Homo sapiens: one gene and its partners. The protein of the gene in region 1 purifies or fractionates together with the protein of each later gene. This does not show direct contact. Each region holds a gene or a part of one and is shown in the gene's direction. Other genes may lie near its edges. The genes, in order: IQGAP3, NCKIPSD, THUMPD3, RAB3GAP1, AP3B1, CCDC85C and PJA2.

The links.
Region 2: the proteins of IQGAP3 (region 1) and NCKIPSD purify together in Homo sapiens (co-immunoprecipitation; one large-scale study listed by IntAct). This does not show direct contact.
Region 3: the proteins of IQGAP3 (region 1) and THUMPD3 purify together in Homo sapiens (co-immunoprecipitation; one large-scale study listed by IntAct). This does not show direct contact.
Region 4: the proteins of IQGAP3 (region 1) and RAB3GAP1 purify together in Homo sapiens (co-immunoprecipitation; one large-scale study listed by IntAct). This does not show direct contact.
Region 5: the proteins of IQGAP3 (region 1) and AP3B1 purify together in Homo sapiens (co-immunoprecipitation; one large-scale study listed by IntAct). This does not show direct contact.
Region 6: the proteins of IQGAP3 (region 1) and CCDC85C purify together in Homo sapiens (co-immunoprecipitation; one large-scale study listed by IntAct). This does not show direct contact.
Region 7: the proteins of IQGAP3 (region 1) and PJA2 purify together in Homo sapiens (co-immunoprecipitation; one large-scale study listed by IntAct). This does not show direct contact.

What each region holds. Positions count from the first base shown.
Region 1 is NC_000001.11:156,527,566-156,531,065, reverse strand, and holds part of IQGAP3 (ras GTPase-activating-like protein IQGAP3), read left to right. Parts: intron 1-748; coding exon 749-961; intron 962-1,636; exon of another isoform or gene 1,637-1,736; intron 1,737-1,983; coding exon 1,984-2,150; intron 2,151-2,455; coding exon 2,456-2,557; intron 2,558-3,005; coding exon 3,006-3,114; intron 3,115-3,500.
Region 2 is NC_000003.12:48,675,428-48,679,892, reverse strand, and holds part of NCKIPSD (NCK-interacting protein with SH3 domain), read left to right. Parts: intron 1-5; coding exon 6-92; intron 93-179; coding exon 180-318; intron 319-435; coding exon 436-516; intron 517-709; coding exon 710-838; intron 839-923; coding exon 924-1,016; intron 1,017-1,156; coding exon 1,157-1,329; intron 1,330-4,465. UniProt on the Homo sapiens protein: Has an important role in stress fiber formation induced by active diaphanous protein homolog 1 (DRF1). Induces microspike formation, in vivo. In vitro, stimulates N-WASP-induced ARP2/3 complex activation in the absence of CDC42.
Region 3 is NC_000003.12:9,365,601-9,370,065, forward strand, and holds part of THUMPD3 (tRNA (guanine(6)-N(2))-methyltransferase THUMP3), read left to right. Parts: intron 1-1,307; coding exon 1,308-1,385; intron 1,386-4,465. UniProt on the Homo sapiens protein: Catalytic subunit of the THUMPD3-TRM112 methyltransferase complex, that specifically mediates the S-adenosyl-L-methionine-dependent N(2)-methylation of guanosine nucleotide at position 6 (m2G6) in tRNAs.
Region 4 is NC_000002.12:135,058,361-135,062,825, forward strand, and holds part of RAB3GAP1 (rab3 GTPase-activating protein catalytic subunit), read left to right. Parts: intron 1-4,465. UniProt on the Homo sapiens protein: Catalytic subunit of the Rab3 GTPase-activating (Rab3GAP) complex composed of RAB3GAP1 and RAB3GAP2, which has GTPase-activating protein (GAP) activity towards various Rab3 subfamily members (RAB3A, RAB3B, RAB3C and RAB3D), RAB5A and RAB43, and guanine nucleotide exchange factor (GEF) activity towards RAB18.
Region 5 is NC_000005.10:78,224,597-78,229,061, reverse strand, and holds part of AP3B1 (AP-3 complex subunit beta-1), read left to right. Parts: intron 1-822; coding exon 823-918; intron 919-1,529; coding exon 1,530-1,690; intron 1,691-3,453; coding exon 3,454-3,520; intron 3,521-4,465. UniProt on the Homo sapiens protein: Subunit of non-clathrin- and clathrin-associated adaptor protein complex 3 (AP-3) that plays a role in protein sorting in the late-Golgi/trans-Golgi network (TGN) and/or endosomes.
Region 6 is NC_000014.9:99,499,173-99,503,655, reverse strand, and holds the end of CCDC85C (coiled-coil domain-containing protein 85C), read left to right. Parts: 3' UTR 1-11; coding exon of another isoform or gene 12-45; 3' UTR 46-671; coding exon of another isoform or gene 672-937; 3' UTR 938-1,279; coding exon of another isoform or gene 1,280-1,449; 3' UTR 1,450-2,242; coding exon of another isoform or gene 2,243-2,300; 3' UTR 2,301-2,784; coding exon of another isoform or gene 2,785-2,890; 3' UTR 2,891-3,466; downstream 3,467-4,483. Other genes in the region: CCNK (cyclin-K), read right to left, coding at 12-45, 672-937, 1,280-1,449, 2,243-2,300, 2,785-2,890. UniProt on the Homo sapiens protein: May play a role in cell-cell adhesion and epithelium development through its interaction with proteins of the beta-catenin family. May play an important role in cortical development, especially in the maintenance of radial glia.
Region 7 is NC_000005.10:109,371,461-109,375,925, reverse strand, and holds part of PJA2 (E3 ubiquitin-protein ligase Praja-2), read left to right. Parts: intron 1-4,465.

The sequences.
Region 1 (3,500 bases):
ACATCAGCCAGAAGCAGACACCTGTGCTCACCAGTAATGAGAACTCTGGAGGCCTACAGGATGAGGGATACAGCTTTAGCCTTGGGAAGCCTCGGGCTACAGAGTCATGGGGCCCCACCCCTCTCCCCACTTCACACACTGAAACAAGCACCAACACTAGGGCTATGGGGGGCACTGAGAGACCGTCTGGGAATGCTCCCCTGGAAGGCCTGCACTCAGAAGAGTGGTCTGCTAGAATGCCTGGAGGCAGGAGAAGGTAGTAGGCAGGTGGGGGGCCAGGGGCAGGTTGGGCCCGCTGGAGTGAAGACTGAACCAGGGTCTTCCCAAAGAAAAGGTGGGGATGGCCAGTAGAGGTATGTCCCAAAACAGAACAGACAGGTAAATGCCCCCAAACATCCTGTGCCGTCAGAAAGATCCATTGTTGGGAAGTCACAGCTAGTGTCTGTCCGGAATCCTTTATGCCATGGCCTGGGTTTGGTTCTCCTTTGGGCCACTCTTCCCCTGTGGTGATCTATGAGGCCCTCCCATGTGTGACACCATGCATTATGGTGTTATACCTTGATATTCTTCATAAGCGATGCCCTGCCCCAGCCATATCCTGCAGAGGCTGGGCTCTGGGGCACTTTCTTAATGATATGCAGAAAAATGCTCAGGCCTCCCTTTGTTGCTGGTGCCCATGGGACCTTCACTGGTGTGGGAGCAGAATGGTAGGACCTGGTAGACCCCTCCAGCGTCTGTGTGTCCCCAGGAAGCAGCCCACAAGCAGCTGATGAGCCGACGCCAGGCCTGTACAGCCCAGACACCGGAGCCACTGCGACGACACCGCTCACTGACAGCTCACTCCCTCCTGCCACTGGCAGAGAAGCAGCGGCGCGTCCTGCGGAACCTACGCCGACTTGAAGCCCTGGGGTTGGTCAGCGCCAGAAATGGCTACCAGGGGCTAGTGGACGAGCTGGCCAAGGTAACAACCTGGGCCTGGGCTCCGTGTGCCTGTGTGTACGTGTGTGTGTGTGCGTGCATATACATGTTAATCCATAGTGTTGGTGGGCCCCTCCTGATGAGTCCTCACCCAAAATTGTCACCAGCCAGAGGAAGGCTGAGGGTCCTTTTTGAAGGAAAGATTTTTTTTTCTTTTTTTTTTTTTTTTTTGAGACAGTCTCACTCTCATCCAGGCTGGAGAGCAGTGGTGTGATCCTGGCTCACTGCAACCTTCACCTCCTGGGTTCAAGTGATTCTCCTGCCTCAGCCTCCCAAGTAGCTGGGATTACAGGTGCGCGCTGCCATGCCCGGCTAATTTTTGTATTTTTAGTAGAGACACGGTTTCAGGCCATGTTGGCCTGGCTGGTTTCGAACTCCTGACCTCAGGGTCCGCCCATCTTGGCCTCCCAAAATGCTGGGATTACAGGTGTGAGCCACTGCACCCAGCCAAATTTTTGTATTTTTAGTAGAGACAGGGTTTCACCATGTTGGCCAGGCTGGTCTCAAACTCCTGACCTCAAGTAATCTGCCCACCTTAGGCTCTCACAAAGTGCTGGGATTACAGGTGTGAATCACCACTCCTAGCCTGAAGGAAAGATCTTGAAATTAGTTAGAGAGGAAGGTGTTCTTGCAACTCTCTTTTTTTTTTTCTTCCCCACATTAGCTGGGTAATGTGCCCAGGTCAGAAGGTTTGAGAGAAGCATATCTCACACAAGAGCATGAAAACCCAATCCTCAGCTTATGACCTACAAAAGTATCCTTGCAACTTTCTTTTACTAAAAAACAAACAGCCTTGAAACCAGTTAGTCCTCAACGGGCAGAGGCCCTGAGGACATGCCTTGAGGATTTGGAATACCATCCTTGAGATTTTCCTTCTAGGAAAACAGCCTTGAAGCCTGTTCTTCCGAAGAGCCTCACAGTGTGTAGCTCTTGGGCCTGTGTCAGGCCCTAAGGCTCTCCTGCCAGGAAGGACCACTCATCCCTCCATCTGTTCCCCAACCCCAGGACATCCGCAACCAGCACAGACACAGGCACAGGCGGAAGGCAGAGCTGGTGAAGCTGCAGGCCACATTACAGGGCCTGAGCACTAAGACCACCTTCTATGAGGAGCAGGGTGACTACTACAGCCAGTACATCCGGGCCTGCCTGGACCACCTGGCCCCCGACTCCAAGTAGGTGCTGCTTTCCCGTACTTGGAAGGTTACGAGTGACTTCTCACCCCTGCCCATGTCACCTTTGCCCTGCTATCTCCCAGCTTTGAAAGGGGAATCTCACCCAGCACAGCACAGTCCCTTCCTAAGTCTGGTCTTTGAGCCTCATTTACAAAGTCTTGGGCTCAAGTGCAGCCCCCCTCCTCTGTCTTCCATCAGTGAGAAGTCTTCCTCGGGGTCTCATTTCCTTTCCAGCCACAGAAAACAAGTTTCTTTGGTGGTAAAGTGTTTATTGGATGAATTCTCTGGGGCCTTCTTTTAATCAGGAGTTCTGGGAAGGGGAAGAAGCAGCCTTCTCTTCATTACACTGCTGCTCAGCTCCTGGAAAAGGGTGTCTTGGTGGAAATTGAAGATCTTCCCGCCTCTCAGTATGTGTCTTTGGAGGGCAGGATGTCAGCCCCTTCCTGTCCTCTAACCTGGGGGTGGAGCTCTGGGCTGGGCACCGGGTGGAAGAGAAGAAGCATGGTCCCGATCTTGAAGGAGCTGCTAGAATGATGGTGGAGACAGAGCATGCCCAGACAGAAAGTGAAGGGCTGTGGACATGGTCTAGCACAGTTCTAGATGCCCTGAGGCAGAGGGTACTGGGAAAGCTTTCCAGAGGTGAGAACAGCTGCGTAGGGCGGGGCAGATAAAGAGATGGTGTGGGGAGCAGAAGTAAAATGGAGAAGACAGCGAGCTGGGCCCTCTGGGAGTGACAGAGGGAAAACTGGTTCTGGATGACACCGCTGCCCAGGATGAGGAGCAGTGGGTGCAAGAATGTGGCTGTAGCCCTGGAAAGAGGCAGTGGGTTCCTGTTTTGAATCCTGTTCCTGACAGCTTCAGAAACGTCATCTTTGACATCACGCCGGGAGATGAGGCAGGAAAGTTTGAAGTAAATGCCAAGTTCCTGGGTGTGGACATGGAGCGATTTCAGCTTCACTATCAGGTGAGGGGACAGTCCCATGAGCCTGCAGGACATCTGCTGGGCTTTAGGTGCTGGCCTGAAGAGAGCAGCTGGCCTCACTTTCCTAGTCCTCAGATGACACCAGCTCAGTTTTTCACCCAATCAGTATCGTCTGTTCCTGAAGAGAAGGGTGGGGGTCTGTGCAGCCCAAGCCCCCCTTTCCCCATGCCCTGACACAGACCCCACTGGCAAGCATCAGGGAGAGTGGAGTGGGCTACTGGTGTCAGAAGCAGGATTAATATTTGAAGCCCTATCACATGTCAGGGACTTTACATGTTACCTCCTTTAATCCTCTCCACAGCTCTGAAGTATTATCCCTATTTTACAGGCTCTAGGCTAAAAGGTTAAGAAGCTGGCTAAGTCATAGG
Region 2 (4,465 bases), on another chromosome or scaffold:
TGTAGACTGATGCAGACCCTGAAGTTTGCAAGAAAATGTGCAAGAGAAACGAGTTCGAGTCTGTCCTGGCCTTGGTGGCCTATTACCAAATGGTATGTGCAGGATGGAGGGGAGGGGTAATGGAGAGACCTAGATAGTGGGGGAGTTCCAGGCACTGAGCACGCAGGGTTCCCTGCCAGGAACACCGAGCATCACTGCGGCTGCTGCTCCTCAAGTGCTTTGGCGCCATGTGCAGCCTGGATGCAGCCATCATCTCCACGCTTGTGTCATCCGTGCTGCCTGTAGAGCTGGCGAGGGACATGCAGACAGACACGCAGGGTGAGGCTGGAGGGCGGGGTAGGAGGGAACTTCCTGCTATCTGGAGGGTGTTCCTGCCATCTGCTGGGGTTTCCTGCCATCTTTGGGGACTCTGACTGCCTGCCTTGTCCCCCCCAGACCACCAGAAACTCTGTTACTCTGCCCTCATCCTGGCCATGGTCTTCTCCATGGGAGAGGCAGTGCCCTATGCACACTATGGTAAGAATGCAGTAACCGACCAGCTGATCACAGGTCCTAAGCCAGGGCCCATTGCCCGAGGGCCTGGGACCTGCTGACTACACAGCCTAGCAGGGAGAGGCTATCCCCAAGGCTCACAGAAAGCCAGGAAGGGTGGGTGGTGCGGGGGTCGGAGGGGAATGGGGCTGCAGACTTCTGTGCGCCCCTCTCCCAGAGCACCTGGGCACGCCTTTCGCCCAGTTCCTACTGAACATCGTCGAGGATGGGCTGCCCTTGGACACCACAGAGCAGCTGCCGGACCTCTGCGTGAACCTGCTTCTGGCTCTCAACCTGCACCTGCCAGGTGGGGTGGGGCCTGGCTGGGCGGTGGCTGAGCACATGGTGGCTCTCAGGCTCAGCACCCTGTCTATACCCATGTCCTTCCTTAGCTGCTGACCAGAATGTCATCATGGCTGCCCTGAGCAAACACGCCAATGTCAAGATCTTCTCCGAGAAGCTGTTGTTGCTCCTGAACAGAGGGGGTGAGGGCCCGGGAATCTGCGCGGGTACCACTTCCATGCCCTGTGACTCCATGACCCCTGCAATGACTCCCGTAACCCCCTGGGGTGACTCTGGGATCCCCACAAGGTCCACCCTGACCGCTATGACCCCTGCCTCCTAGATGACCCTGTGCGCATCTTCAAACATGAGCCACAGCCACCACACTCTGTCCTCAAGTTCCTGCAGGACGTGTTTGGCAGCCCGGCCACAGCTGCCATCTTCTACCACACAGACATGATGGCTCTCATTGACATCACTGTGCGGCACATCGCAGACCTGTCACCAGGAGACAAGGTGCCTGGAGGTGGCTGCAGCAGCGGGGGTCACTGTGTGGAAACTGAAACAAAATGGTGGGGGGCATGACATTGAGTGGAGATGAGGGGGCAAGGCCACTGCTGGAGCCAGGTAAGTGTAGGAGGCCATGATAGGTGCACCAAGACCCAAAGGAGCCAGCCATGAGGTGATCTGGAGGTGGTGGGGCTGGAGGAGGCTGGAGAGGAGGGAGTGGAGGGAGATGAGGCATGGAGGATGGAGTTTACACAAAGCCTCGGAGGCTGCTGCAAGAGGTTGTGATCTCAGGACCGGGGAATGTGATGTGATTAACATCCCACATGGAATCAACTGCATGCCAGCAGAGTGGAAGCCAGCCAGGGAGGAAGCAGCCTCAGTGGTCCAGGTGGCATGGATGGGGTGGGGATGGGATAGGTCGTGGCAGTGGCAGTGGCGAGAAGAGGCCAGCTGTGGAGTGTTTAGTAAGTGGATCTGGCAGGGCTTGCCACTTGATTTATCTTGAGCAGCTAGATGGATGAAGTGCTGATTTTTGAAGTTGGGGAGGCTGGGAGAACTTCTTGGGGGAAAATAGAGAGTCGTGTTTTGAATGTGTCAAGAATGAGGAGATATCTGCTAGACACCCAGGTACCGAGGGCATCAGGGAGGCAGTGGGGAATGAGTTGAGACTAGAGAGACATTTCGGAGTGGTCTATGCAGAGATACGATGGGAAGCCTGTGACAATGTGATTGCCTCAGAAATGAGATAGATAGGCAGGTCAGCGGGAAGTTCGGGCTGCAGCCCTGGGCACAGCTGAAACAACTAGGGAGAAACCCAGGAAGAGAACCAAGAAAGCAGGAGCCCAAAGCCACATGTTTAGAGGAAGACGATCAGCCATCTCTATACCGTTAGGAGCCTGAGCGAGACTGGGGTTGGCCATTGGATTCACCACACAGAGGTCAGTGGTGCCTGACAAGCAGTGTCAGTGGGGTGCAAGGAGGAGAGTCTGAATGAAAGTTTGAGAGAGCTTGAAGTTATTGGGGAGTAGAAATGAGGGGAGGGTTGGAAGCAGTAAATGGAGACAACTCTTGTGAATTTTCTATTAAGGGGAAGAGAAAAATGGAAGGGAGGTTGCTGGAGAGAGATGACATGGGGATAGGGAGAGTGTTTTTTTGGGGGTTTTTTGTTGTTGTTGTTTGTTTGTTTGTTTGTCTCCCACTGTTGCCAAGGCTGGAGTGTAGTGGCACGATCGTGGCTCACTGTAACCTCCGCCTCCTGGTTTCAAGTGATTCTCCTGCCTCAGCCTCCCAAGTTGCTGGGATTACAGTCACCCACTACCACACCCAGCTAATTTTTATATTTTAGCAGAGACAGGGTTTCGCCATGTTGGCCAGGCTGGTCTTGAACTCCTGACCTCATGCAATCCACCTGCCTCAGCCTCCCAAAGTGTTGGGATTACAGGTGTGAGCCACCGTGCCTGGCCAGGGAGAGTGTTTTGAAGATGGGGGATGTTGGCCAGGCGCGGTGGCTCATGCTTGTAATCCCAGCACTTTGGGAGGCTGAGGTGGGTGGATCACTTGAGGTCAGGAATTCGAGACCAGCCTGGTCAAAGTGGTCTCTACTAAAAATACAAAATACGAAAAATACAAAAATTAGCTGGGTATGGTGGTGGGAGCCTGTAATCCCACCTACTTGGGAGGCTGAGGCAGGAGAATTGCTTGAACCCGGGAGGTGGAGGTTGCTGTGAGCCAAGATCACACCACTGCACTCCAGCTTGGGTGACAGATGGGGGATGTTGGCCAGGTGCAGTGGCTCACGCCTATAATCCCAGCACTTTGGGAGGCCGAAGTGGGAGGATCACTTGAGTCCATGAGTTCAAGATCAGCCTGGGCAACATAGTGAGACCTCTGTATAACCTGATGGACCACAGTAGAAAATAAAATTAGCTGGGCATGGTGGTATGCACCTGTAATTCCAACTACTTTGGAGGCTGAAGTGGGAAGATTACTTGAGCCCAGGAGGTCAAGGCTGCATTGAGCCATGATTGTGTCATTGCACTCCAGCCTGGGCAACAAAGCCAGACCTTGTCTCTTTAAAAAACAAAAACAAAAATGGTACGGATGATGGTGCATGTTCTGAGCCGGAGGGAATGATCCAGCAAGCACAGAGAGATGGATGATGTGTTGGAGATGGTGAGCCACCACAGGAGTCAAGTGGATGGGGCAGGAGGGGAGAGTTCAGGTCCAGGCCCACATGGACAGGAGCTAGGGCTGCTCATTCTGGTAGGGACAGGTGAGATGTGGGTACTGAGGGGAAAGACGGGTTTCTGCAAGATTACTTCTGTATTCTCTATGAAGCACAAGGCCAGCTGACAAGGTAGGTAGGTTTCAAAGACAGAGAAGGTGGACATTATTACTACTCTAAGGGAGAGTGACACAGCAGAGAAAAGCAGTGGGAGGCTCAGGCAGTGCTGTGTGTCCGTTTGAGGTTTGCGGTGGTGAATGACATTCAGGCCTGCACATGGCTCTGCATTTGTCTATAGCTTAGACGCTGGTGTTTGATGTGCAGGCACCTCAGTATGACTCCCAGGGCTGGGACTTAGCAGGGTGTGCTGCCTAAAGGAGGTTTTGGTATTATTTCTCTAATTAAAGGTAAAAAGAGAAATGAGGGATGTTGAGGGAAGCAGACATCAGGTCAGTGGACTGGGGGTCTCTGTGAGAACAAGCTGTCAAGTCATAAGGGCTGGCCGGGCGTGGTGGTTCACGCCTGTAATCCCAGCACTTTGGGAGGCCGAGGTGGGTGGATCACTTGAAGTCTGGAGTTTGAAACCAGCCTGGCCAACATGGCGAAACCCCGTCTCTTCTTAAAAAAAATACAAAAATTAGCCAGGCATTTTGGCACATGCCTGTAATCCCAGCTATTTGGGAGGCTGAGGCAGGAGAATCACTTGAATCCAGGAGTCAGAGGTTGCAGTGAGCCAAGATCATGCCACTGCACTCCAGCCTGGGTGACAGCACGAGACCCTGTCTCAAAAAAAAAAATGATATATATATATATATATCATATATATATATATATATGATATATATATATAGATCATAAGGGCTGTTGGAACTGGTTCAGCCAGAGGTGTTGGGAGTATAGGTTGGAGGAGAGGCTGTT
Region 3 (4,465 bases), on another chromosome or scaffold:
CTTTTTCTTTGAGACAGAGTCTTGCTCTGTCATCAGGCTGGAGTGCAATGGCGCGATCTTGGCTCACTGCAACCTCCGCCTCCCAGGTTCAAGCAATTCTCCTGCCTCAGCCTCCCCAGTAGCTGGGACTACAGGCGCCCGCCACCGCATCTGGCTAATTTTTGTATATTTAGTAGAAACGGGGTTTCACCATCCTGGCCAGGCTGGTCTCGAACTCCTAACCCCGTGATCCACCCGCCTCGACCTCCCAAAGTGCTGGGATTACAGGCCTGAGCCACTGCGCTCGGCCTGCCAGTTGAGCATTTCTAATCTGAAAATCCGAAATGCTGCACTGAGCATTTCCTTTCAGCATTGTGTTGGGGCTCAAAAAGTTTCAGATTTTTAGATGTGGGCTGCTCAACCTGTAGTAGGATTGCTACATTTTTAGAGGTGATCTAGTATTTCTTGAGGATTGAATTCACCAGAAAGAATACTGTTCAACTTAAGAAATTCTCTAAGTATCTCAGTATTTATTTACTTCAGCATATAGCAGATGTTTAACCTTTGGTGATGAAACATAAAAGAGATTTTCCTTTTAATTTGCATCAAAAATTCTTGCTCAGAAGTAATTAGGACTCACTCAAGGTAAAAAGTGAAGGTCAGAAAACTGCAATCTCACTATCATAAAGCTGATATATCTCATTACCACATAAGCAGTGAGAGGGCAAGGATTGTTGTCTATTTTTTTTTCCACCAATATATCCCACGCTCTTAGTGTCTGGCATATAGTAGGTACCCAGAAAATATCTGTGGGATGAATTGGTAAGCAAATGTTTTCCATCCAATATTTTAGCCAATACCCTCAGCAGCTTTGTGAAGATAGGCACTATTATTATCCTCATTAATCATTAGGCTTAGGACACATAAATAATTTCCCCAGGGCCACTCAGCTAGTAATCACAGAACTGGAGCTCAAATCCCCTGCTTTTAACCATTGCAGCATACAGTGTACCCTAGAAAGTCATCGAGGAAATATGATACAGCCCACCTGAGTGGCTTCACCTTTCTCTTCTCCCACAAAAGACGTGTTGCCCACAAAACACTTCATGCTTCTCTCTTTCCATCTGCCCTTTTTCCCTTTCTCTAGGGGAAAGCTGATTAGTAACCAAAGAGATGAGAAACTAGGGAGATGGGACATTTTAAAAATACAAAATATAGTTAGTAGCTGCTTTAAAACTATCATTCCTAATTTTTTAAATACTTAATTGTTGATAGCTTGTGCTGTTCAAAAGCTTTCTCAGAAATGTGTTTCTTTTTTTTTCACCCAGGTTCATTGTCTGAGATCAGTTGATAACTTATTTGTGGTGGTTCAGGAGTTTCAAGATTACCAGTTCAAACAAACAAAGGTGAGCTATCCTAAACATGGTGGCTGATTTTTGGCTGTCTTCCACAAAGAGATTATTTCCATTTTTCATAGTCTGTGAAAGTTTAGCATTACTGTAGTCTTTGTAATAGAGAATACTGGGAGGCTTTTACAGTAAAATCTAGAGTTTTGCTGACAGTCTATCCCAAAAGATGTTTTTTGAAAATTAGTATTGAAAACCATTAAAGTTTATAAGAAAGAAGAAAACACCTTGTTTTACTTGTAAGAGATATAAACCTTAGATTTGCTTTGCTTTTACATATATTTAGTTCCAAAAGAGAATTGCTTCCAGAACATGAACCAAAGAACAAGTGACAGTTTGTGTCTTCTACAAATAACACTTCCTCACCATCCTGCTTTTGCTCTGCTTTCTTCTCTTTCTTCATTTTTTGAAATAAAGCCAAAATAACATCTAAATACTCCTTCAGTTGTTAGGACAACAGCTTTGTCTCCAATATGTATTTAGCATCTGAATCCTAAATATTCAGCTGCTGCCTAAGCTGAAGGTTGAAAATAGATTGCAGCAAGGCTTTAGGTTTTTTCCACACTGCTTTTTGGTTAGGTTTCTAGAGTTAACCGCTTAAAAACATTTTTCTATCAGTTTTACGTATCTTAGAAATAATCTTTTTAAAAACAACTGTGATACGCTACCTAATTGTCTAACTTTTATTTATTGGCAAGCATGTTGATTTCCAAAACGTTATTCAAAAACGAGTCAAAGTTGTATGAACCCTCAGCCTAGAAAACAATAAGACCAGACCTAAAAGAAGTCAGACTTAAGGGCCTGGCGTGGTGGCTCACACCTGTAATCCCAGCACTTTGGGAGGCCGAGGCGGGTGGATCATGAGGTCAGGAGATCGAGACCATCCTGGCTAACACGGTGAAACCCCGTCTCTACTAAAAATATAAAAAATTAGCCGGGCGTAGTGGTGGGCGCCTGTAGTCCCAGCTACTCAGGAGGCTGAGGCAGGAGAATGGCGTGAACCCGGGAGGCGGAGCTGGCAGTGAGCAGAGATCACACCACTGCACTCCAGCCTGGGCGACAGAGCGAGACTCCATCTCAAAAAAAAAAGTCAGACTGAAAATAGATAAAAATTGTATTAAGTAAAAATCTAACTTTTAGAAAAGCTTAAAGCAATTCTAATGAGTTCTCTTAAGTATTCAGATGATAATCATGAATTTATTAGTCCCCACCCCCCTCTTTTAAAAAATATTGAGATGGGGTCTCACTATGTTGCCCAGGCTGGTCTCAAACTTCTGGGCTCAAGTGATCCTCCCACTTAAGCCTCCCAAAGTGCTGGGATTACAGGTGTAAGCCATTGCACCTGGCCCCCATTCCCCACCTCCACCCGCGCATATTTTTTTTTTTTTTTTTTTTGAGACAGAGTCTTGCTCTGTTGCCTAGGCTGGAGTGCAGTGGCACAATCTCAGCCTACTGCAACCTCTGCCACCTGGGTTCAAGCGATTCTCCTGCCTCAGCCTCCCGAGTAGCTGGGACTATAGGCATATGCCACCATGCCCGGCTAATTTTTGTATTTTTAGTAGAGACGGGGTTTCAGCATCTTGGCCAGGCTGGTCTTGAACTCCTGACCTCGTGATCCACCTGTCTTGGCCTCTCAAAGTGCTGGGGTTACAGGCGTAAGCCACCGCGCCTGGCCTCCATCTGCCTTTTTAAAAGTATGAACAAATCTGTGATTTATATGGGTTTTTAAAGACTAGTTAATACATGTATTTGGAGCAAACTTGTAAAGACTGAATGGATATAGAGTGAAAAGTAAGTCTTTGTTCCTATATCCTCATGCTATGCAGCTCCCTCCCTGGAGGCAACAACTGTTAGCAATTTCTTGGGTATTATTCTGGAGATATTTTACGAATAAATGTATTTTATTTACACAAATGAAAGCATAGCATACATACTTTTCTGCGCTATGCTTTTTTTTCATATACAAGTTGAGTATCCCTTATCTGAAATACTCGGGACCAGAAATGTTTTGGATTTTTGTTTGTTTGTTTTTTGAAATATTCTGGGTTGGGCATGGTGGCTCACACCTGTAATCCCAGCACTTTGGGAAGCCAAAGCAGGTGAATCATGAGGTCAGGAGTTTGAGAGCAGCATGGCCAAGGTGGTGAAACACCATCTCTACTAAAAATACAAAAATTAGCCGGGTGCGGTGGCGGGCTTCTGTAATTCCAGCTACTCGGGAGGCTGAGGCAGGAGAATCACTTGAACCCGGGAGGCAGAAGTTGCAGTGAGCCGAGATCACGCCACTGCACTCTAGTCTGGGCAACAGAGCAAGACTCCGTCTCAAAAAAAAAAAAAAAAAAAAAAAAGAAAGAAATACTCTGAGGGTGGAACCTATGTATAAATAAATCCAAGATTCATTTGTTTCATATATACGTTATACGTATAGCTTGACGGTAATTTTATATGATTTTTAAAATAATTTATACATGAAACAAAGTTTGTGTACACTGAACCATCAGAAAGCAAAGGTGTCACTATCTCAGCTACCTGTGTGGCATCATGTTGGCACTTCAAAAAAATTTTAGGTTTTGGATTTTGGACTTTGAGATTAGGAATGTTCAACCTATATGTTGGAGATCCTGGCAGTATCATTGCTGGAATTGGCTGCGTATACTCCATTGTTTGGCTGTATAATAATTTAACCAGTCCCATTTTAGGGCATGAGGGTTTTTCACATTCTTTTGCTATTACAGTGGTGCAACAAATACACTATGTAAATTCTTGTACATATTCAAACTGAGTGTCATCTTTGTGTTTATCCCATTGATACTTATTGATAATGACAACTGTTTAGTCTTAGTTTTGTCATGCTCATACTTTTTGTTTTTTCTTAATTTGAAAAATCTTTACATTATGTCTTTACTTTTTTCATATGCCTGTGTTTTCTAATAGTTTGGAAGGTTTATGTGTGTGTGTTCTAGCTGTTACCTTTATAACTACAATTTGATATTATCTACCTTATCTACCATATATACACGGTATTTTTTGAATCCCTGCTAAAAGCAATGATGAAATTGGCATATTTATACTTTTTTCCT
Region 4 (4,465 bases), on another chromosome or scaffold:
AAGTTTGCTTCTCTTTTGCCTTCTCCCTTGGAATGTTAAAACATGTTTTTAAAAGTTTTTTATTTGGTCAGAGAAACATTGCAGTGACCATCTTCTTTGGTAGCATATTTTGCTTACTAATGAGGAAAATTCTAGTACTTACCATTGACTTACTGTAGTTAACAACTATTTCACTCAGTTTTTGTATTTTATAATATCACTAATAACATCCCCCTTCCCTTTTAAGCTTTTTAACTTATGGATGTTTTAAGGATTTTATTTAAGAATGAAAAAATTACTCTTTGAAATTGAGGTAGAAATCAAATTCTAATCTAAAGTATTGGTAGTTTTATTCATAAACCACACCCCAAATGTTTACTGAAGAATGTACTCTGAGAACAAACCTGGATTCACTGTGAAGGGATCTAACAATTTGATTTTAAGTTTATGTAGATGCTTAGTTTGTTAGATAAATTCTTTTGAAATAAAATTTATGGTTGGTTTTATTACAACTCAATATTACTAACTCAGTGATAACTTATTAACTCAGTAATTATTAATTCAATAGTAATTTAATTATAATTTACCCTGTGTTAGGAACTTTGAGTTCTCAATATTTGCTAGGGGTTTTCAGCTTTGTGATGGTGATACTATCAAAAAAGAGACTGTCAAAATGCATTAGGAAGCCAGGCAACATGGTGAGACCCTGTCTCTTAAGGAAAAAAAATCTCCTTATTTGTATCAATATGAACAGAAAAAGTAAGACCACATATAAAAAATACATCATTCAAAGACTCTTGGCAATATATACATTGATTTACTACACTACATGTGTGAATAAAGAAAATGTGACGCTTTCAAACACGGGTCATTCTACTCCACTTGAAACAAATACATAACAATTGATATAGATGCCAATAAGATTAGAGGCAAAATAAGCTGGATATAGCTAGAATAGGAAATGATTTACACTACTAAGAAGAGAGCTAAACCGGGTACTTATGAGCTCTGATATTCTTTCATTCTTTGATTTACATGTATTTACTGAGTACCTGCTATGTGCCTGATGTGAAGAAATTGTGAACAAGATAAGATCAGTGTTGCCATTGAACATAAATTCTAGTGAGGGTGATCAGTAAAGAAACATTAAAATTTTATTTTATTATTATTTTTTAAATTGATATATGATAGATGTACATATTTTGGGGTACATGTGATAATTTGATACATGCATATAATCAAATCAGGGTACTTGGGAACCCTTAAATATTTATCTTTATGCTAAGAACATGCAAGTTACTCTCTTTTAGCTATTTTGAAATGTACAGTCAATTAGTGTTAACTAAAGTCACTCTAAGGGTTAAAGTTTTAGATGCTAAATTCAGTTTTGGGATTTAAGTGGGTAGTTATTTAAAGTAGGTAGCATACTGCCAGGCATGTAGTAGAGGCTAATGAAGTCATAGCTCCAGTCTGTTTCTCCCTACTAGATAGTAGTACATAAATAAGATACAGAAAATATGGGCAGATTTCAAGGTGAGCTGTAACTATGATGAATATGAAGAAAGTGTAGAGGACAGGGATTGTTTGGTGTAGAAAACAAAGTTTAGAGACTTCCTTTGAAGATTTTAACTTATATGAAGGACAGTGATTATTAATTTTCTCCTCCACTGAGGGGGAATTAAGGGAAATTATTTATTAAAAACCTTTAATTATGGAAAATTTCAAACATATATGAAGTAAACAGAATAGTATAATGAACTCCCATGTACCCATCACTTAATGTCAACAATTAATACTTTGCCATTTCTTGTTTGAGTGGTACCTCTGTTTACTCCCCTACCTCCACTAGATTTTTTTAATAGTTTTTTTTTGGGTAAGATTTATATACATTGTAATGGACAAAACTTAACTGCTTGATTTTTTTTTTTTTTTTTTTTTGAGACCGAGTCTCGCTCTGTTGCCCAGGCTGAAGTGCAGTGACATGATCTCAGCTCACCGCAACCTCCACCTCCCGGGTTCAAGAGATTCTCCTGCCTCAGCCTCCCAAGTGGCTGCGACTACAGGCACCCGCCACCACACCTGGCTAATTTTTTGTATTTTTTAGTAGAGACGGGGTTTCACTGTGTTAGCCAGGATGGTCTCGATCTCCTGACCTTGTGATCTGCCCGCCTCGGCCTCCCAAAGTGCTGGGATTACAGGTGTGAGCCACCGCGCCTGGCCAACTGCTTGATTTTGACAAATGTTCACATGGGTATAACTTACACTCCTGTCAAGATAGAGGTCATCTCTGTTACCCCAGGAAGATCCTTAGTGACCCTTTCTAGTTAATTCCCATGCCCTCCAGTCATCTGCTATTATTATTATTGTTATTATTATTATTATTTGAGACAGAGTCTTGCTCTGTTGCCCAGGCTGGAGTGCATTGGTGTGATCTTGGCTCATTGCAACCTCTGCCTCCCGGGTTCAAGCAAGTCATATGCCTTAGCCTCCCAAGAAGCTGAGACGACAGGCATATGCCACCTTGCCTGGCTATTTTTGTGTTTCTAGTATTTTGTATTTTCACCACGTTGGCCAGGCTGGTCTCCAATTCCTGGCCTAAAGCAATCTGCTTGCCTGGGCCTCCCAAAGTGCTGGGATTACAAGTGTGAACCACTGGGCCCAGCCTTTTTTTTTTTTTTTTTTTAAATAAACATAAATTACTGTCACCTGCTTTAGAACTTTACATTTAGGTGACCATAAATGTCCTTGACATCCTTTACTCACGATAATGTTTTTGAGATTCATCTAGGTTGTTGTACATACCAGAATTTCATTTCTCTTTATTGCTGTGTAGTAAGTGATCTGTTTTATGAATATACATGGTTTCTTTCACTTGTCCACATACGTACTATTAGGAATAAAGCAGAACATTATTGTATGAGGCCTTTTGTGGGCATATGTTTTTATTTCTCTTGAGTAAATACCTAGGATTGGAATCACTGGGTAATAGGATAGGTGCAACTTTATAAGAAACAGCTAGAGCTTTTTGTACTGTTTTACCTGCCCACCATCAATACATGGGAGGTTGTGTTGCTATACATTCTCACCAACAATCAGTTGTTTGCAGTCATGTATATTTTAGTCATCTTAATGGGTATGTAGTTTGTGCTTTTAATTTATATTTCTCATTTTGGTTTTAGTCTGTATTTCTGTGATGATATTAATATTGACCACTTTGAATTTTCATGCATTTATTAGCCATTTGTTTATCTTCCTTTGTGAAATGTCTTTTCAAGTTCTTTATCCATTTTAAAAATTGGATTTTGTTTTTATTGAGTTGTAGGAGTTCTTTTAGTTTTTTTTTGGTATATATATATTCTGCTTTTAAGTCTTTTCTCAGTAGTTTTGCTAGGTTGTGAAGATGTTTTTAATGCATTTTTCTAGAGGGTTTACCAATTTATCATTTAACCTTTGTTAAGGTCTATGATTTATTTTGAGCTACTATATGGAGGGAAGTAGGGATCAAGTTTCTTCTTCCTTTTTTTTGTGTATGGATATCCTGTTGTTCTAGAACCTACTTTGGAAAACACTTTTTCCATTGAGTTGCTTTGTCACCTTTATTGAGTAGTTGACCTAAGTGGTCTACTTCTGGAGTCTGTATTCTGTTTCATTAGTCTATTTGACTATCCTTATGTCAATACCATATTGTCTTTTTCTTTTTTTTTTGAGACAGAGTCTCACTCTGTCACCCAGGCTGGAGTGCTTGATCTTGGCTCACTGCAGCCTCCTGCCACCATGTTGGCCAGGCTGGTCTTGAACTCTTGACCTCAGCTGATCCGCCCGCCTCGGCTTCCCAAAGTGCTGGGATTACGGGCATGAGGCACTGCGCCCGTCGTATATTGTCTTGATTACTGTAGTTTCAGGTTTCCTAACCTTGGCACTATTGACATTTTGGGCCACATTGTTGTGAGGCTGTCTTATGCATTGTCAAATATTTAATAGTATCTTTGGTTTCTACCTGCCAGATGCCAGTAACATGTTTCCAGTTGTGACAACCAAAATTGTATCCAGATATTGCCAAATGCCCGCTGAGGGGCAAAATTGGCCCCAGCTGAGAACCATTGAATGGATTTTTAGTAAATCCTGATGTTAATGTAAATTCTCCATTTTTGTTGTTTTCCCAAGATTTTAGATCTTTTGTGTTTCAATTATGAATTTTAGAATAGGCTTGCTAATTACTATAAAAAGGAGTATGATTATGCTGAGACTGTAATTGGGGTTGGGTTGAATTTGTAGATCACTTTGGAGACATTTTAACAGTTTTGAAAGTTCTAGTCATGAACATGGCACATCTCTCCATTTATTTAGGTCATCTTTAATTTTCCTCAGCAACATTTTGTAGTTTTGGTAGAGGTCTTGTATATCCTTTGTTAAATTTATTACTAAGGATTTTATGTTGTATGATGCAAAAATAAATGGAATTGTTTTTTAGTTTTGTTTTCCAGTT
Region 5 (4,465 bases), on another chromosome or scaffold:
ACTGGAGAGGCTGAGGTGGGAGGATGGCATGAGGCCAGGAGGTTGAGGCTGCAGTGAGCCGTGATTGTGCTATTGCACTGCACCCTGTGCGACAAAGCAAGACTGTGTCTCAGAAAAAAAATCGAAAACCAAAAAAAACTGTTTCCAGAACACACATCCAATCTTCTTGAATTTTTATTACGTTAAATTGGTATTCATAGTCACACATTATTCTTACTGGACTGAAAATATCATGTAATGCGTGTTGAAATGTGAGTATTACCATAAAAATCAGAGTTAGGGCTCTGGACTCTTTTAACAGATGAGGAAACAAGTTCCCATAACATATAGTTAGTGGCCTGGGCCCAAATTCTTTCTCTTATTATTTTTTAAAGAGGTAGGGTCTCTCTGTGTTGCCCAGGATAGCCTCTAACTCCTGGGCTCAAGTGATCCTCCTGCCTCAGCCTCCTGTGTAGCTGGGACTACAAGCATGTACGCCATGCCTGGCTTCTTTCTTTTATTTTTATCCCTCATTTTGAAAATATTTTTACAATTTAGTTAATATTCTTATATGAGATCTGCTCAGGGATTTTTTATTCCCTTCAAGAGGAAGGGACACTTTGATAGGCTATTGCTATTGTGAACTGGACTATTAAAATGCTTACTTTAAAAGCTTTTCCTGTTGTACTTATTATCCCACAAAATATTATTTTTATTTTACAATCTAACATGTGACCAGATTCAGTTATTTACTTGAGAAGAATTGAGCATGGATTTTGGTATAGCAAATACTGAGTTTTAAATTTTCACTCTGGTTATGAATAAATGATTTTTTTTTAACAGATCAAGAAGTTGGTATATGTTTACCTGGTTCGATATGCTGAAGAACAGCAGGATCTTGCACTCCTGTCCATAAGCACTTTTCAGCGAGCTCTGAAGGTAAATAATGGAGTGAGTAGGCAAATAGCTACAAGGTTTCTGCAGAGTTGAAAGTGTGTCAGTTAAAGAAGTGGAGCGATAATCCACTAAATAGCACAGTAGTGTCTTGAAAGAGTTAAAAGCCTCCTATAGTGCCTACTCAGTACACTTAGAAAATAATTTATACAACCAACTGAAACCTTGCTGTATATGTTACAGCTTCTGTATGTTTGTTTATATTCAATATAATTATTTTCATGCTTCAAAGAGCTGTTTATCATTATACTAGTTGTTGAAAGTACGCAAAAGGGGTTATAAGACATTTTTAAACATGAAATTGATGACCTGCAGCATTTTATTATTATGAAAGTATAAAAACCCAGCATATTTAGTAATAAATGACCAACTAGAATTATAACTATTACTTTTCTTTAAAACATTATTAAAGAAGTAAACATTTATGTCTGTCTTTTTTTCCCATTCCTATATACTAATTGTTCATTTTAAATTAAGTAGCTTTCTTTTGCTATTGTCATATTACACCCTTTAAGCACCTATTAACTGTGTCTGAAAGATATGTTTAAAATATTGTAAAGTTGAAATTTTGGTGAATATTTTTGCACTATTTTTAGGACCCAAACCAACTAATTCGTGCAAGCGCTTTGAGAGTTCTGTCAAGTATTAGAGTGCCAATTATTGTACCTATCATGATGCTTGCTATTAAGGAAGCTTCTGCTGACTTATCACCATATGTTAGGAAGAATGCAGCCCATGCAATACAAAAATTATACAGGTAGGTGCATTGTTAACAATATACCAAAGATCTCTGATGTTACATGGAATGTTATAGACCACAGAGGCTTGTTTTATTCGCTCTTTTAGGTAGGCTGCTCTTACACTAAGTAAATCCAGTGACTGTATGATGGTATTTCCCCCTGCTGCAAATGTTCCTTACACATCTTTAATTTCGTTTTGGCTATAGAGACCCTATGCAGGTTTTTATTTGTGAGGCTGTTAGAGCCTGTGATAATTTATAGATTTTATAACTTAAGAATAATCAGAATTTGAATTCTCATTTATATAGTCTATCTCATGTACACATATGCTTGTATTATTAGAAAATTGAGATTTTTTTTTCCTGTTTAGGGTAGAATCTTAAGTGTCTGATCCTCTCAACTCACTTATATGTGTTTTCCTTTCTTCCATCTTTGTTCCTGCTGCTCCCTTCGTTGTCTAATTCTTTTCCAGAGCTATTTTATTAAGTAATTTTAAAAAGTGTAGTGATTTGAAATATAGTGTGCTATACCATATCTGTGTGATATTTTAGAAATGTTATGCAATATTATACAATGCCCTGATCTCTGTGGAAAATTTACTGTCCAAATAGAATTGTCTACAACAATTTGGTATTATTTTCAGCTATCATTTATTCCTCAAGCTTTTTGAGACTCTCTTCTGTTTCTGGTGTTGTATTCACAGTATTGTGCTATGTGTATTTAGATGTATGAAAACAGTAGAGGATGTGGCACTTAATTATGAATAGCATATCATGTATTTGAGGAAGAAGATCAAAGACATACCAAATAATTAAAGGCAATCTATAATGAATAAGATATTAGCACTTGATATATATGTATATACAAAGGTACACTAGCAATGTCTTTGATAGGACAGGGACCAGAGATGATCATATTTTGTTACCGGAAAGTAAAGATGTAATGAGATGGGATTGGTAGTGAAATACTGCTTTGAGAAGGAAGACTTAAGCTGAAATTTGAAAGAATTAAAAAGTTTGTCCAGATAATTATAATGTTTAGTAATAAATGTGTATGTTTGTAGAAAGTGAAACCTCATATTCCTATGTTAACTGCCAGACAAGGTTTTATCATGCTTCTCACTCACCTTTTCTCCTTAGAAACTTATGGGATAAGATCCATGCTCACTCTAACGGCTTAAAAGTCCTTCTATCATTGGGCACCAGTATATTCCAGCCTCAATGCTTGCCTCTCCTTGCCTTGAGCTTATAGTCTGTTAGTATTCTATCTCAAATGTTTTAAGCTTATTACTACCTCTTATTTTTCCTAGTTTTAGTTGGCAGATTTTATAATGCATGTCTCTATCAGTGAACTAGTATGATATAAAATTCTTATTTGGAAATTCTCCATATTTGTTTTTGGGAAGTATGTATGCATAGTAAAATAATGACTGCTATCTAGTTATTTTTTTCCTCCCAGTTGAAAAGAGTTTGTGGTTTATCTACTTACAGTCGCTTTCTTGAAGTTTTCCAACTCTTTTAGAAGTGAACTTGTTCTTTCAGTACTATCTTAACTAAACCATTGATATCTGGTTTAGTTAATATGAACAATATTAGAGGGAAAGATGAGGACACATTCATGAGAAAAACCATCCCATTTTATTTGTTTTTCTTTATTTCTAACTTATAATTCTTGCTCTCCTTTCCCTCTTTAAAAATTTCTCAACATCCTTGAATTGGTGAGCATCATGTAAAGCTAGAATTAAAGGGAAAAATTAATATGTTATTTTTGTATTTTTTAGCCTTGATCCAGAGCAGAAGGAAATGTTAATTGAAGTAATTGAAAAACTTCTGAAAGATAAAAGCACAGTAAGTAATGTCTTTTTACGTCTTTGACATAAAAATGTACTTTATTTACATAGTATCATTTACCATTATATATTTTATATAGTTGTATTTATTGATTTCAAAATGGTATAAATATTAATGGCACACAGGACTATTTTTAAAGAACAAAAATTTTCATGTAATGAGAAAGACTGCATTTGGAGTTTTAGATCGTTATGTGTTTCTTCATCAGAATCTGAAAAAAGGCAAGTTGAGAAAAAAATCTTTAACCTGTGGCTAAGTGGTTAACATGGTAAGATCAAGGAATAGAGGTGACCTATGGGGGATGTGAGTTACTAGTGTACTAGTATCTTAGATGGGGCTTTTGTACCCACTTTATATTTCTCAAAACTACTGAGGAAAAGGATTCCAGCTCATCTTAGGATGCTATCATCAGGGAGTATGTACTATCTATGCATGGCAGCTATCTAATACAGTAGGCAGTAGCCCTGTGTAGCTGTAACTATTGGTTTATGGCTTAGCATTTGATCTATCCTGGATAATGTTCAATAAACATTTGATTAGAATGTGTATTCTGCTGTTGTTGAGTGGAGTGTTCTATAGATATCTGTTTTTTAGTGTTGTTCAAATCTTCTACTTTGCTGATCTTATGCCTACTTGTTCTATTCATTATTGAAAACAGGGTATTGAAGTCTCTTTAATTCTGTTAGTGTTTGCTTCATCTATTTAGGAGATTGGATGTTTGGTGCATGTATGTTTATAATTTTTTTAATCTTCCTTTTGTCATTGTAAAATGTTCCTCTTTATCTCTAGTAACATTTTTTTGTTTTAATGTCTGTTTTGCCTGTTATAAATACTACTATTCTAGCTTTTTTATGGTTGCTGTTTCCATTATATATCTTTTTCCATCCTTTTACTTTCAGCCTGTTTATATTTTTGCATCTATTGTATGTCTCCATAGACAGC
Region 6 (4,483 bases), on another chromosome or scaffold:
CAGGAAATTACCTGCTGCTTTGTTCTCTTCTTTGGGAGAAACAACCTGTTACAAAAGAAAATACACAATTGTTAACTGGGATCCTGAGTATGATGAGAAAAAAATGGATTATCCAGGTACCACCAGAATCAGCGACGGCAGTCACTGTGAACAGCCTCGGACAAAAATTATTTCTAGCCTGAACTTTCAGGGCAAACCACGGCACCTACCAGATCATCATTTCTGCTCCCTTCCTCTTTCCATTTACCAAATAAGACAGAATGACTAGCTTTCCTGAATGGTGAGTTCTGAGTAAACACTAAGTTTCAGGACCACTTGGGTGCAGGAAACGGTCCACTGTTTGGGGTCAGGCAGCTGCACAGAAGCAGCATGCACAACGACACTGCTAGGACACGGCAACGACACCGACAGGCTTCAGAACCCTGGCAGGGATGAAACAGGCAGCAGGGCTGGAGCCGGGCAGAGAGCCCCCTCCTGGTTCTCAGAGGCAGCCTGTCCTTGGAGCACCTTTGTTTTCAGGCTCCCCACCGACAAGCAGTCGGACTGCGAGTTTCGGCGAACACCCCCTGCTTCCGGTGTTCCCTGTGCTCGCTTAGAAATGGGAACAGTGCTCAGGTGTTGCCGCCACCTGGAAAGCCTGCTCTACCCAGGGCCTGCTTTAGCCCACTCACCACGGCTCGCTTAACCTGTCGGGGAGAACTGGGCTGCGGAGAGGGTTTCTTGGGCTGTTGGGCTGGCTGCTGCTGCTGGGCTGGTTGCTGGGGGTCCTTCTGCTGGGGCTGGGATGGTTCGGAGCTTTGAGACGGCTGTGACTGCTGTACTTGCGGCACTTGTGGTGTAGGCTGAAGAGATGGGGGCTGTTGCAGCTGATGGGGGGTGTGATGAGGCATCTGTTGTTTTCCTTGTGAGTAAAGATCCAGGATTTGGTGGCAGATGTCTAAATGATAGCCAACAATTACATTTTACACAAATTGGTATTTTAAATAAAATTTTACCTGGATAAAGAATCAGTTATGATACCCCTACGAGGACCTAAGCATGAATCACATTTACAACTCACCCCATCTTCGTTGTGTGCAACACTGGTGTGTATTTTTAGTTTACCAAAAGTATGTGTTTGGACAAAGTGGAAACTATTAGATAATTTAATTAATGATGCTTCTGAAATATTGCTCACATATGTCTATCTGGGAAAATCCATTCTTGGGACTCAGGGTACACATGGAAGAATCATCTCAACATGGAACACCCTCACGAGAACGCTTAGCATGCCTGGTACCTTCCAAAACGTCGACCGGGACATCTTGAACAAACTGCTCCCACCATCTCCTATACATGGGTTTGGAGGTCCATTCTTGTATTTCAAATTTGCACAAACGTCCTGCGAGATACATCACTGCTACTGCTATGATCTCTGGTTCCCACTGCAGTGACAAGGTGGTGCAGAGACTAGTTCAACAAGAAAAAAAAAGGTTAGATAATATGATCTAATATTTATGATTAAACCAGTGCATGGAGATGCCATAACTAACCATTAATTTGCTTATTCTCCCCTAAATTTAATTAAAGTACTATAAATAAATAAACTCAAGTCTTTACTCTTCTAAAGGTACCCGACTAAGTTACTTTAACCATAGTTAGTAATTTCTCTATTCCTTAAAGAATCAGAAGAATTCTAGCACATCCAAAAATTGCTACACCAATGAAAATGACTTATGTTATTTAAACTGTTGAAATCCTAGCCACTCAACTGTTTCTTCAAATGAAATCTTATGGAGGAAGTCAAATGTAAGAGAAGCTTCACTGACTGCAGTGGGATGGGGCTGGCAGCAACTCCATTCACAGGCATTCTGTTTCCCACCACGGCCCCTCATTAGATCCCTGGCCTCTCAAAAGAGTGTTAAGGCTCTAAAACTATACCAGGAAGTATATTTTTGCAAAACCAAATGGGCTCTAAGTAATTAGTTTTCAAAATTCTCCAGTGTATTGTTTTGGACTTATGTTTCAGACTGGTGATAAAATTTCAGCACCTCACAACACCATGACACGGCAGGGCAGAAGGAAACCCTCTGCCGGGAAGCAGATGACCTGGACGTCAGCCCCAGCTTTGCCATTAACTGGCTCCTCAAGCCAGGGCAAGTCAGTTTCTTCTGACACAAAATGAGGGGTTTAGATGAAATGGTCCATAAAGTCTCTGCCTATTTTAAAATACTGTAATTAATCAACATTTGAACATGTATACCTGTCATTTACAAATGTCCATGCCATTTGAACCAACTTTTGAATTTTGTTTTTATCACCTAGAAATGGGGACAAAAAGGTAAATTAATAGCAATAGAAAAATTCACAGGCAGCATCAAGTATTTATTAAAAACCTACCACGTGTTCAGCACCACTCAAATACACAGCAAAGAGCTTTTGCGTGGGAAACAAGGATGAATGATGTGGGTCCACATCCTACCCCTTCTTCCTCCTCATGACCTACGCTGAACCACCATGTATGGAAAACCTGGCTCCAAGGCTAAGTTTATTAGTCCATTTAAAAAATTCTGCCTCATTTTCCTGCCTCTCCCATCACTTGGCAACTGGATGACAGAGCCTGTTTATACATAAAAGGAAACAGCATTAGCAGCTGCAATGCTGAATTGACTGAGCAAGCCATGCCCTTGGTATTTCACACATCAAACTTTGTTTTCCGCTTTTGAGAAGCGTAATTTGAGTGTCATCAAATTATAAAGACTTGATTTCAGAATGAAAAAATTCTTCTGAAAACTTTCTTCTTACCTTTGAGTTGCTTTGCATATTTTAGTAGGAACTGGTATGGATGTTCTACCTGTAAATCAAACTTGATGGTCTGCAGTAAGATTCTCTCCAGAACCATTACTTCCTCCTAAAAATCAATCACAAATGTTAGGACAGTAATTACAATTGCAGGTCTCAAGCAGCATTACAAAAGTGAGCTTTCCTGTCTATTTATTCTCTCTTCAAGTTATATTTTAGCAACTGCCTTTCCTTCCTTTCTCTCCCACTCAGACTTTTAACATGCTCAGAGACACTGATAAATTCTGAAAAGATCTCAAACAGGAAGACAAAGCAGAGGTGTAATGTAAAAAAAAATACTGAAAACAAAAGATCCTTAAAAATATTATTATTTTCAATACATACATGAGTCTCCCTTTACAAAACAGATCTTTACGTTATTGATAATTTGACTAAATTGTAATTTCTTTCAAGACCTCAAATTTTAAAAATGCAATCTTTTAGGAATTTTCATTGAAAACATTTTAAGCAAGAAAGAGTTTATGATAGCCAGCCTCATGAAAACTCAGAGATAAATTGTACCAGTGTGTGTGTATGTGTGTGTATATATACTCATGTACACATATAGTGTATTACGTGCAAATGGGGGCAAATCAATTTTGTGTTTAAATCTTTCATTTATTTGAAATAAATCATCCCAACAACACTTACTGAATAAATGATCATTTCCAATTTTATTTAAAATGCTACCTAAATCACCTCCTAAACTACGTGTGTATGTCTGCCTACACACACACTATCTTTTCTGTTCACTGATCTGCCTGTCTACTCCTGGACCAGGATCAAAGGGATTTGGGTGGGATACAATAGCTCCAGTATTACTTCTCTTTTTCAAACAGTTTCTGGGTTCTGCATGTCCCCCTCACTCAAATTTTAGTAACCATTTTACTTAGTATCATTACAGAAAACATACATGCTATTAATATTCTCATTGGAAACTCAGAGGATTTATAGAATAATTAGGGAGAATGGAGATTTTTAACCATATTGAAGTTTCCTTCCAAAAATTTATTAATATCTTTTCAGTCCTTTAGTTGTTTTAAAGTCCTTTCCACCCCACTAACGAGGTTTCCACAAGGTTTAACCTTGGATATTTTACTGTTGCTATCGTTAATGGAATGTCCTCTTTGATGATACTCTCTAACTAATGTCTTGAACTCAGCCCCTGTACAGCCGACTGTACCTACTGCTTAAAGACAACATAAACCACAACCAAGACACTGTGTGCGGGGAGGACAATTTGAGAGAATTCCTTGTTTGGCATCAAAGACAGGGCGTTGTAGAGGACTGTAAATCTCATCAACAGGTGCAGAGACCCACAGGTCACTGGCTTTCATTTAGAAGCATGGTATTATTTTATAGGATACAGAGATGATTCTATAATTATTATTCCAAATTACATGGCAAGACTAAGGTTTTTCAATCTTAGTTTCCCAAGCATTTTCTCATGAAAGTTTTTTAAAATCTTAGAAACTTTCACACAGTGTAAAAAAAACTGGGCTGGACATGGTGGCTCATGCCTGTAATCCCAGCACTTTGGGAGGCCGAGGCGGGCAGATCACTTGAGGTCAGGAGTTCAAGACCAGCCTGGCCAACATGCTGAAACCCCACCTCTACCAAAAATATAAAAATTAGCCAATCATGGTGGCAGGCGCCTGTAGTC
Region 7 (4,465 bases), on another chromosome or scaffold:
TCTATGCTGCTGTGTCCTGTTCCTCTACCCTAATTCCCTGCAAAGGATTATAGTTGCCAGGGTGCCTTTTTAATATGGTGCCAGCTAAAGGTTGGAATTTAATAGCTGTACACTCCTATTTAGTTTCATTTTGCCCTTGTTCATCTCCCTGATGTTTCATTGTCATCCTCCCTAGTTCTTGTATTTGTAGATTGGAGAGATGGTGATGCTAGTCTTCTCAGGTTTTGGATGGAAAGTATAAGAGCTGCTGCTTAATTTGGGCCTGTGAACTTTGAGTTTTTTTGTAAAGCTTAAAAAGTTGATATACTTGAAAAGTTTTTTTTTGTCATGCTTATAATAGCCAAAGTAGAACTCATCAAGAATATAACTAAAGTTCATTGTGGCATTTTTATTTTTTTATTTTTTATTTATTTATTTCGAGACAGAGTTTCTCTCTGTTGCCCAGGCTGGAGTGCAGTGGCGTGATCTCGGCTCGCTGCAACCTCTGCCTCCTAGGTTCAAGTGATTCTTCTGCCTCAGCCTTCTGAATAACTGGGACCACAGGCATGCCATCATGCCCAGCTAATTTTTGTATTTTTAGTAGAGATGGGGTTTCACCATGTTGGTCATGCTGGTCTTGAACCTGTGACCTCAAGTGATCCACCCGCCTCAGCCTCCCAGAGTGTCAAGATTACAGGCGTGAGCCACTGCACCCGGCCAGCATTTTTAGATATAGGAATTTTGGCTACTTTTTAAAAATATGAATTATATATTCTTTTTAAGTAGAAAAGTATTTTAATGAATTCATGATTGCCTTCTTCCCTGAAAAATTCTAAATGATCATTTAATCACATCTGAAATGTTACACTCTGTGGGATAAACATTGCAGCCAGTAGCATTGCTCTGAGCTGTTTGACAGGTACTGAGCACCACCTTATTAAATTAGGATTCCAAGGGGAATTTTAATAGGCAGCATATAATTACCAGACTTAGAATTAGACCAAAGAGCTAAGGTTAATACCCTGCTCTTTTGAAATATACCCTGAGAAGTTTAGTAACTGTTTGAGGACAAGATCTTGAGTTTAAAAAAAACCTTTCAGCAATACTAGCATATCTTAACCTTGGGCCTAACTGCTCTGAAGAGAGGCATGCCATCTACTGTCTGTTCCTTACTTATAGCATTTGAGGTTTCTTGCAGAATTTTTGTGGCCTTAGGACTTAACTTTGCTTAAAATTTAAAAACCTTACTTAAGGTAAAATGTTGGGACAACTTACTTTGTTGATGATGTTGGGAAATAAAATGATTGTTAGCCATTTAGTTGACTTCAATATGATATATTAAAGGATTTGTTGAAATCTTAAGTGCCAGACTTTGTTCCAGGTGCCCTGTTAATACAAATCATAATGGTCCCTGTTCCCACAAGGTTCACTAGCTTTATGAAGAAGACAAAATATACGTATTTATTATTGTGAGGCTGAATTAAGCGCCTTTCCTGTTCCGTGTAGGTTACCTGAGAGCCACAAAGAAAGAGTTTGTCTGAGAACTTGGTACTACCCCCAACAAATAAAACATCTATATGCAGCCAAGGCACAGATCTTAAAGCATATGTGCTGACATTTTAGCAAACCTTTTTATCTTGTTTTCAAGTTCATAGAAGTTTGGAAGGAGCACATTAGGTATAAATGTGTTTGTTCTGCAGATATGCTAGGGAGTTCATGGGATTACAATAACCTGATACTAAGGAAAAAGACCAGAAAGTGACAAAAAGCAGGCACAATGCAAAAATCATAGCCATCTTAATGAAATTAAGCAGACTTATATATTTGGACATAATCCATTCATATCACTGTATTACATTACAGTTCAGTGTTAATAGTGGTAAAAAGTTCCAGAATGTTTAGATTATGTCAGATAACAAAATATTTAAAATTTCACTTTTTCCTAGGCTCCTGTAGTTGAGTTTCTTGTGGCTGTGATAAATGCCAGGAAGAACAAAGTAACAAGTACCTTGGGGAATTATGGAATGAGAGATTACTTTTGGTTGGTTTTATGTTTCCATAGCTTATTTCTGCCTAGGATTTGTACATAAATTTTGTCTATAATTTCATTCTGTATATCAAGTTTTTTTAGTTCACAATTGAATGTGTAGAGTGTAACATTTGAGTAAATTATAGTTGTCTGCTTTTTAAATACAACTCTTAGGTGCTAAAAGGGATCAGTACCAGTGAAGGATCATATGAAGATCAAAGTAGTACTTAATTTAGTTTTTACTTTGAGAACTTTTAAATGTGTCATTCACCCGCTTTTAAAATCTAGAACAAATGGATCTTCACTGTTCCATGATCATTTTTGTGTCCTATTTGTTCTGTTGCTTACTCCTTAAAAAGTGATTTTTAAATCTTTTCCCTTTTTTCCTTCCATGTACTCCTGTCACTCCTAATGGTTAGCTTCGTTTCTTATTTTCCTGTAGAAGTTAAAAATATGTAAATGTGAATTTTCTTATTTTCCTCTTCTCCATATTAGGGGATAGTAGTATTTATTTGTATTTTTAATTTCCTCTTCAATGAAGAGAGGTAGCCCCTCTCATTCTGTGCCTCTAGTTATTTCTGACACTTCATCTAATTGTCCTTACTCACAGGTTGCTTCCCTCTGTCTCTCAACCTTGAGTTTTTCTCAATCTTGAAGAAAACCTTTACTTTTTCTTGCTCTGTTATTTGCCTGTTTGTGTTTTCTTTTCTACTGCTGAATTTTAAGAAAAAGTTTTCCATACCCACTGTCTCTATTCTGTCACTATCCACTCTTCTTACTGCCTTGAAATCTAATTCCTAATATTATTTCTGTATTCTTTTTTATTGAGACAGTCTCGCTTTGTCACCTAGGCTGGAGTGCAGCGGTGCAATCTCAGCTCACTGCAACCTCCACCTCCTGGGTTCAAGCAATTCTCCTGCCTCAGCCTCCTGAGTAGCTGGGACTACAGGTGTGCACCACCATGCCTGGCTAATTTTTTTTTCTTTCTTTCTTTTTTTTTTTTTTTTTTTTTGAGACGGAGTGTTGCTCTAGTTGCCAAGGCTGGAGTGCAATGGTACCATCTTGGCTCACCACAACCTCCACCTCCCAGGTTCAAGCGATTCTCCTGCCTCAGCCTCCTGAGTAGCTGGGATTACAGGCATGCGCCACCACACCCAGCTAATTTTGTATTTTTAGTAGAGACCAGTTTTCTCCATGTTGCTTAGGCTGGTCTCGAGCTCCCGACCTCAGGTGATTCACCTGCCTCAACCTCCCAAAGTGCTGGGATTACAGGCATGAGCCACTGCACCCGGCCCTATATTCTTTAATGTCAGTGGTGACCTCCTGATTTCCACATCCATTTGTCTTTTCTCAGTACCCATTTTCTTTGATTTCTCTGCACTATTATGAAAAATAATTGCAATGTTAAAGAAGCAGCTGTGTTGTAGTGAGCTGCACTGAGTAAACAAGAAGTCTAGTTCATGAAATAATTGAAAAACAAAAGAAGCGATTTTATACAGGAAGGTCTTGAAAGAAATAGAGTCTGATCTGTGTTTGGAAGTGGGGAAAAGGTGAAGTGATTATAAAGATATTCCTGATGGCAAGAATGCCCACTTTGAGGACACTGTTTGAAATAGAGCATTCTTGAGTTGGATGCAAGAAAGTACTGGGATCAGATAGCAGTAAATTATAAGTGTTATTCAAAGACATTTAACTTTTTATTCTATAGGTCACTATTTCCAAAGTGGGTAAAATATATTAAGTGGTACACAATGTTTTTAATTTAATCATTATGTATTTATGTTAATGGAAATTAAGAAAATATAGGTAGCACATCAAATTCAGGACTTAATGGCTATTGCTTATCCTAACTAAATGTATTTGAGTTTAAAAAAATGTTAAAAAAAGACTCGCTAACAGTTATTGATGGCTCATTATTTATCAGGCATTGTGAAAATGTTTTATATATATTAACTCACTTACCCTTTACATGAACCCAGTGAACTATTAAATACTGTTGTTGTATTCACCTGATATGTGAGGCTAAAAAGGCATAGAGAGGTTTTCATAGCTAATAAGTGGTGGGTTTAACTCCAGGCAAGCTGACCAGGACCTGTATTCTCAACTATCGTACCTTAAGACAGAGGGTTAATGTGCAACTGCAGCAAAAATTGTGAGAGTGATAGGCAAATGGCTTGTTTGTGAAACTAAAGCAGTAGCATTAGAAAAAAGAGCTGTTGAAGGTTTTTTGGAGTAATACTATAAACATACTGTTTGATATGTAAATTGAAGTGATGGTAGTATTCAGAATGCATTTTGAGGGAGTGGAATTAAATTTAGGAACACCAATTAATAATTGACTATATAGGTCTAATTTGGAGAAAAGCATTTGAACTAGGGTTTTACATTTTAGGAGAAACGGAGAAAAAGGAGCTAAGACTACAAGAGCCATTGTGCAGAGAAAGAATGGAAAGTAAG